2 linked regions of the Homo sapiens genome follow. The protein of the gene in region 1 purifies or fractionates together with the protein of each later gene. This does not show direct contact. Each region holds a gene or a part of one and is shown on either strand. Other genes may lie near its edges.

Evidence for each region.
Region 2: the proteins of TSPAN7 (region 1) and ZMPSTE24 fractionate together in Homo sapiens (co-fractionation; one large-scale study listed by BioGRID). This does not show direct contact.

The regions. Positions count from the first base shown.
Region 1 is NC_000023.11:38,672,863-38,676,680, reverse strand, and holds part of TSPAN7 (tetraspanin-7), read right to left. Parts: intron 2,461-3,818; coding exon 2,365-2,460; intron 977-2,364; coding exon 821-976; intron 1-820. UniProt on the Homo sapiens protein: May be involved in cell proliferation and cell motility.
Region 2 is NC_000001.11:40,267,957-40,271,774, reverse strand, and holds part of ZMPSTE24 (CAAX prenyl protease 1 homolog), read right to left. Parts: intron 3,357-3,818; coding exon 3,240-3,356; intron 1,801-3,239; coding exon 1,648-1,800; intron 1-1,647. UniProt on the Homo sapiens protein: Transmembrane metalloprotease whose catalytic activity is critical for processing lamin A/LMNA on the inner nuclear membrane and clearing clogged translocons on the endoplasmic reticulum.

The sequences.
Region 1 (3,818 bases):
AATTTTACCTTAGCAAGAAAAGATTTACCCCTTGACTGAATAACAGGAAGTAAACACAATAGTAGGTTTTTTCCTCCCTTTTGTTTACCAAAATATATGTTATATATGGTATTTCTCTAAACATTTAAGATGTAGATAATCTTCACATGCAGTTATATCATGTCTTCATCGTATTCTCTGTAAAATGGAATGCAGAATTGATTTTCCTCTTCTCTGACTACTAAAACTTCATTTCCCTCATTTTCACTATGTACTAACTTTTAAATTTCGTTTAGTCCTCTTTTTTCCCCTCTCTAATTTCTTTGGGAGTCGGGAGGTTGACAGTGAGTTGAATCAGAGTTGCTGATTTCTTTTCCTATGGCAGTAAACTCCCTAAAATAAAGGCCACCCTCCTAGCAGAAGCAGATGCTGTCTGTCAACTCTACTCCCCTCTTGCTGTCAAAAACTGACACCCAGCTGCAAACAATTTCATGTTTAGATGGTATATTAAGCAGAAGACGGACACCCCAAAAGAAGAAAGCCAACACTCGCTGTCTGACATAAGCATCAGGGTTAACAGGAACTGCTTGCTAAACCTTCCTAACTATGCCTGGTAGATCCTTGCTGTGGGAGAGAAAGACAAGGCTGATCTGAGTCACAGCTTTCTCTTTTAGAAGTGAGCAGCCTCAAGTGCCTCTCCCAGGCAATCAAGGAACCACAAAGTAAGATTCTCTTTCCCTTGACTACTATTTCAAATCTATTTGTCATAATTTCATGGAAATAAAAAAGCCCCCCCAAACATTCACCACTGGTCCCATCTGGGCCAGGAGAAAGCGGGTACCTTCTGGTTAACTTTGGTGGCGGCCACAGTCAGATTGTGTAGATCCTGGGGATTACAATCAGTTTCGTTCATGCAGCAGCTGGGGGGGATGCCATGCTCCAGGAAGTAGGGGCTGGTGCTCCAGTTGGTGTAGTTCTGCACACCACAGCAGCTCAGCTATTAACAGGGAAAGGAAAAGAATAAAAAAATGGCAGATCAAATGTGGTCTCCTCAATCACTGCCTTGTGACTTTTATAAGAGAAACACAGGCAAAAGCCCTAAGACAACATGTGCAGCTTTGGTGAGTCAAGATGAATGGAAGCTCCAATAACAATTATACCCATATTGATGCTTGTTTGATCTCCAAGAAGGAAGTTCTAAATTATATATCACATTGGCTTTCTTATTACCTCCACAAAGCAAAGCAGTGCGTCTGTGTCCAACTCACAATCACCTATTGATATAGATGTACTCATCCACTAAATCAGGACTATTGATTGGTGAGTTGAGGCAAATATGGTTTCAAAAAACTCTCCCCTGGGATATCTACTAATAAGTAAATAAATAGTTCTTAAGAAAAAAAGATGCACATACAGAAAGGGAGAGCCAAAGCTGGTAATCTATAGCCCAGGAGCTACCTGTTTTTGTAAATAAAGTTTTACTGGGACACAGCCACAACTATGTGTTCACATACTGTCTGTGGCTGCTTTTGTGCTACAGTGGCAGAGATGAGTAGTTGTGACAGAGTTTATGGCCCTCAAAGCCTAAAATATTTACTATTTGATCCTTTACAGAAGAAGTTTGCCAACCCCAATGTAGAGAATATTAAAGCAAACGGGGCAAAAATATAATTAATTGGTAAATCTGAGTATACAGTTCCTTGTAGTATTCCTGAGACTTTTCTGTATATGTTGGAACTTTTATCAAAATAAATTAGAAAAAAGACTTCTTCTGAAGTAAACAAAACCAAGAAAAACCAAAGCAAAATCCCCCTTAGTGATTCCTGATGGGCAGTTATGCTTGAGTGCCAGCACTTGCCACCCAGACAGGAAATCTCTCTTCTATTTCCCCCATATCCTCCGCAAAGCATCAGGCAGCTCACCACCTTCACATACCTAACAGAGCCTCAGTTTCTTCTAGGTCCACTCTATGCCCACTCCACTGCCCCAGCCAGTGAATGCAGCTCGCCTGAGCTCTCCACCCAGCCTGAAGACATCGATTCCAGAAAGCCAGCCTCCGGGAGCCAACTCTAAGCAAGGTTGTCACACACTCACTGCCTAACTCCTTCACAAGGGTTCAGATCTGAAGAGCAAATGAGCTGTCCTTGCCATACTTGCAACCCTTACTGATACAAGGCACACTCAAGGGAGTGGTCCTCCTTGACATTAATTACCTGAATAACTGGAGCCTGGACAAGGACTGGGTGTCAACTCTTGGCAATGGAACTGGACTAAGAGTTGAAGAACGGGAACAAATAGCAACTACTGGGCCAACCTACAGGCAGTCCATAAGTCTAAGCCTAGACTTCATAGTTAGTTCACACCCTCATCTCCTCTGGAACTTACGCTGCGCTGCACATGGTCCACTGCCCGGCTCCTCTCATCATTGCCATTGTAAGTCTGCATAGCGTCCGTGTAAGTCCTCAGGAAGGTGTCCTTGATCTATGGAAGACAAGGAGGGATGTGATTGCAGTCCACCACAGCCCAAACTGACTCCAATTCTTACCAAATTCTACCCTAACATAGCCTCTTCTGAAAGTCTCTGTATAAATGTAGGCCAGGGAGGCAATGCCCCATTTTCTGAGATGGAAAAGCTCAGAAAATTCACCAGGGGGTTTTTAAGCTCCGGAATTTAAAAAATTGTTCCCCTCAGCCTCAATCCAGAGAAAGCCTGACCTGCTGAATGACCTACTGGAGGGGCCTGTCCATTTCTGAAAGGCCTGTGATGGTGAGCTGCCAAACCTCAGGCATGAGCTTTCTACTTATTTTCTTTGAATTGATTAATACCCATCTTTCTATAACTTTCTCTGCCCTTACACAGGAGGCTCATAAAAGACAAACCACTTGGGTGGACAGGATGACTGATGTTTTGGTCAAAAACTGATCCCTGTTTTACCATAGGAGTGAGGCAAAACCAACTTTCACTTACCTGTCTTTATTGAGGCAAATTAAAAAAAAAAGATAATAAAGGACAAGAACTTAAAAAGGTTGGCTAGGTGCAGTGGCTCATGCCTGTAATCCCAGTGCTTTGGGAGGCCGACATGGGCAGATAACTTGAGGTCAGGAGTTCAAGACCAGCCTGGCCAAGATGGCAAAACCCAGTCTCTACTAAAAATACAAAAAAAAAATTAGTCAGGCATGGTGGCAGGCGCCAGTAATCCCAGCTACTTGGGTGGCTGAGTCAAGAGAATCGCTTGAACCCAGGAGGCAGAGGTTGCAGTAAGCAGAGATTGTGCCACAGCACTCCAGCCTTGGCAACAGAGCAAGGCTCTGTCTCAAAAAAAAAAAAAAAAAAAAAGTTAACAAAACCTTTTCTGTTACCACATTTGACTTTGGGGTAACTTTCAAGCTCTGTTTCCCTGGAAACCTGATGAAGGTGGAATGTCGAATGTGTTACCAGGCCACTGAGTTTATTGATAAAACTGACCCCCAATTGGTAAAATGCCTCCAGATTGGGAGGACAGCAAATGACAATAACTACTTGGTGGGAAGCTTAGGGCTAAGTATGGTGACTCTCCTAACTAGGCATATTCTTTGCTAAAATGCTGTAAACTATGTCCATGGGACAGTTACAAGAGATAGAGATACCAGTTACATGCAGCTTCTAAGCTAAGGTGGCTACCACACCCAGCTGTGTCATCTCATTTCGCTACACTTAAGCTGTCTCTTAGGATGGGGGACTGTACACAGAATAGGCACTAGACTATTTTGAGGACTCATGGTGGAGAAACAAGCCCACTACTGCCTAGCAGGCAAACTGTGCTTCCTTTGTTATATCTTTCTGCTTTTGTTAAATGGCA
Region 2 (3,818 bases), on another chromosome or scaffold:
TTACTTGCTCTGGTATTCCCAGGCCCAAATAGTACCAGATAGTAAGAGCATAATATCTGTCTGATGAATTAAATTGAAATGAGTAGTCTGATAACAGAGTAAACTTATGAATTTTATTTTAAAGGATAATGCTACTAACAGTGATTAAAATCTCTAGGTGGTAATAAGTATAGTCCTTTCAAAACTATCTTGGGGATTTCTGATGCTTCATGAGTCAATCATAACACGCAGTTCTACCTTTTAGCGTAATCACAATAGACCTGAAGTCTTTCCCAAAAAAGAATTAGTAGAACTTGATTGTGTGCTGTTACTTGGTTGGCTTATCAGCTAAAATTAATTACCTGTAGTTCATAATTGTACAATGTGGTTGAAATAGCACTTCCTTAAGCATTTTTAGAGCATTTTCTCTGCTCTTTTTCATCTTACTTTAATTTGCCATACAATAGATACCTGTAAATCCAACTAGCGCCCATTTTCTGATCTTGATCCCATCAATGGAAAATGAAACAATGAGCATTATGTAATTCAGACTAAAATAAACCTCAGCTTGGGCATGGTGTCACACACCTGTAGTCCCAGCTACTCAGGAGGCCAAGGCAGGAGGACTGCTTGAGCCCAGGAGCTCAAAGCTGTAGTGCACTATGATCATGCCTGTGAAATAGCCACTGTACTCCAGCCTGGGCAACACAGGGAGGCCCTATCTCTAAAATAAAATAAACCTCATCAGTGGAGCTGAAGAGCTGATAGATGATAATTTCTGGGTGCACTGAACAGACCACTTTGGGTTTTTTCATTTGGGTTTTTTAAAAATTATTATTTGTAGAGACAGAGTCTCACTGTGTTACCCAGGCTGGTCTTAAACTCTTGGGCTTAAGCAATCCTCCCACCTTGGCTTCCCAAAGTGCCAGGATTACAGGCATAAGCCACTGTGCCTGGCCCTGAACAGACCATTTTGACTGCGTTGTAGTGTTTGTGTTGTGAAGCACTTGAGAGTATGGAAAGAGAAGAGGAATAGGAGATGTGAGGGAGGGAAAAATCAGGGGGAAAAGAGTGAGAGGGAAAAGGAAAGGAGAAGAGAGGCAGGAATAGGTGGCAGTTGGGGAGAAAAGGGAAGACAGGAGAAGGAAAGGAAGAAGAATGGGTAAAAGATAGAAGGGGAAGGGGAAGCAGATGGGGCAAAGAAGGGAGAGAGTGTCTAACGTGGAAGGGAAAGGCAAGGGAAGGGAAGCAGAAGAAAGCCAGTTAAGTATATGCTTTCTTTCTCTTGTCCCTCTTAAATCTCATTTCTCTTCAAAATAACCATGATTTTAGGCAGTGGAGGTCAGTCAGGAGTCATTAAATTATCACACTTAGTCATTCTGGTGGCAACTCGCAAATGCACAACCCAAAACTGCCTGACAACTGAATCATTAAAAGTGACTAACAACTAGTTTCTATGACCTGAAGAGTTAGCATAAGGAGAAGGAAATTTATGGTCAGTCAATACTCCTGTGTCTACAATCAAAAGCAGAAACCAAGGGGGAAATGTATATAAGCACCTATTTATATTTCAGCTGCTTCTTAAGAACTGTTTACATGCCAATGAAGATTACAGTAATCTCACCAAGGAACTTTTGCAAAAGAAAACGAAATAAAGATTTTACTCACCAGAGACACAACTAATGTGAACAGCCAGGCATAAATAAAAAAATAGTCACCCCCAATTTTAATAATGTAAAGTAGAAGTGAAGACACAGGCAACAAAATACACTGAGTCACAACAAATTTCTTGATTGCATCTTTCATGAAGAACCCCAAAGTCTGCAAAAAGAAAACATTACCACAAGAAACTGAGAAACTGGTTCTGCTTTTTAAAATAACTGATAAATAAATACAAAGGATACATTATTAAAGCAATTTTTAAAATTAACATGCAGTGAAACTATATTATATGACATTAGGCAGCTTAAGACAATGGGTAAATGTCTTGCATTTTACAGCTGAAAATTCATTTAAACCTTATTAACTGAGGACGAGTGCAGTGGCTCACAACTGTAATTCCAGCACTTTGGAAGGCCTAGATGGGAGGATTGCTTGAGCCCAGTAGTTCCAGGCCAGCCTGGGCAACATAGTGAGACCCTGTCACTACTAAAAATAATAATAAAAAAATTAACCCAGTGTAGTATAATTCATCTATAGTCCCAGATACTAGGCAGGCTGAGGTGGGAGGATTGCTTGAATCTGGAAGGTCGTGGCTACAGTGAGCCATGATCCTGCCACTGCACTCCAGCCTAGGTGACAGAACGAGACCCTGTCGCAAACAAACAAATGATTAGTAGCTGAAAAACAATAGATATTAGTGCTAAAGGAGTTTATAACATAAATTTCTTTTTTTTTTTTAAGAGACAGGTCTGGCTCTGTTGCCCAGGTTGGAGTACAGTGGCACAATGATGGCTCACCGTAGCCTCAACCTCCTGGGCTCAAGCAATCCTCCTGCTTTAGCCTCCCAAGTAGCTGGGACTTCAGGTGCATGCCACCACAACTGGCTTTTAGAATTTTTTTGTAGAGATGAAGTCTCACTATACTATCCAAGCTGGTCTTGAACTCCTGAACTCAAGTGATCCTCCCGCCTTAGCCTCCCAAAGTGTTGGGATTACAGGCGTGAGCCACTGTACCCAGTCAAGACTTTTTTTCTTTCTTTTTTTTTTTTTTTTTTTTTTTTGAGACGGAGTCTTGCTGTCACCCAGGCTGGAGTGCAGTGGCGAGATCTCAGCTCACTGCAAGCTCTGCCTCCCGGGTTCACGCCATTCTCCTGCCTCAGCCTCTCGAGTAGCTGGGACTACAGGCGCCCACCACCAAGCCCGGCTAATTTTTTGTATTTTCAGTAGAGACGGGTTTCACGGTGTTAGCCAGGATGGCCTCGATCTCCTGACCTTGGGATCCACCCGCCTCAGCCTCCCAAAGTGCTGGGATTACAGGCATGAGCCACTGGGCCTGGCCTTAAGTATTTTTTTTTTAAAATCAGTGTTGACCAGGTTGGCCTCGAACATGTAGCCTTGCCTCCCCGAGTGCCAGGGCAACTGGCCAGAGCCACCGCGGCCCCCAAGACTTTCAGCTATGATCTTTACCATATCTGTAGTTCCCTTTTTTCTCAATTCATACTCTGAAATAGTAAATTATGTTTAAATTATAAACAGTACAGGACAAAAGCACAGAAGTTTTTCACATTTAAAAGAGAACATTTGTATTCTTTATTATACCTGTTGATTGAAGCCATGTTTTTCTTCTATCACAAAAGTATTATAAAGACTCCATGGCAAACCAGTCAATGCACTGAAAAGTGTAGCCAACAGCAGAAACACCAGGGACTGAGTGATCTAAACAAAAGAAAAAACAAAAATCCAGTTTTTATGAACTACTGGCAAACAAATCAACAAGTATTTGCTGAGCACTTACTTACTACATCCCAAGCAATATGCTTGATTCTATGGATAACATAAGGTCTGAAATATCATCCCTGCCTTCAAAAAAGTTTACTTTTGAGAGAAGTAAATGAGAAACAAAACAATTCCTTTTTTATTACACAGGCACTATATGAAAGGTACCTTAAATCATACAGACAAATCCCTAAGATAAAGAGCCTGGATTCTTGGCTTACCACATGGAAGAAAGTCACCTGATAACTAAAAATACTCACACTGGACTATTACGTGATTGAGAAATAAACCATTGCAAATAAGCCTGTGATATTCTGGGATTTGTTATTGTAACTAATGTTATGCCAATACAGCATGGGTAACCAAGGACTATGCAAACAGAGAGGCAAATCTTAACATTGG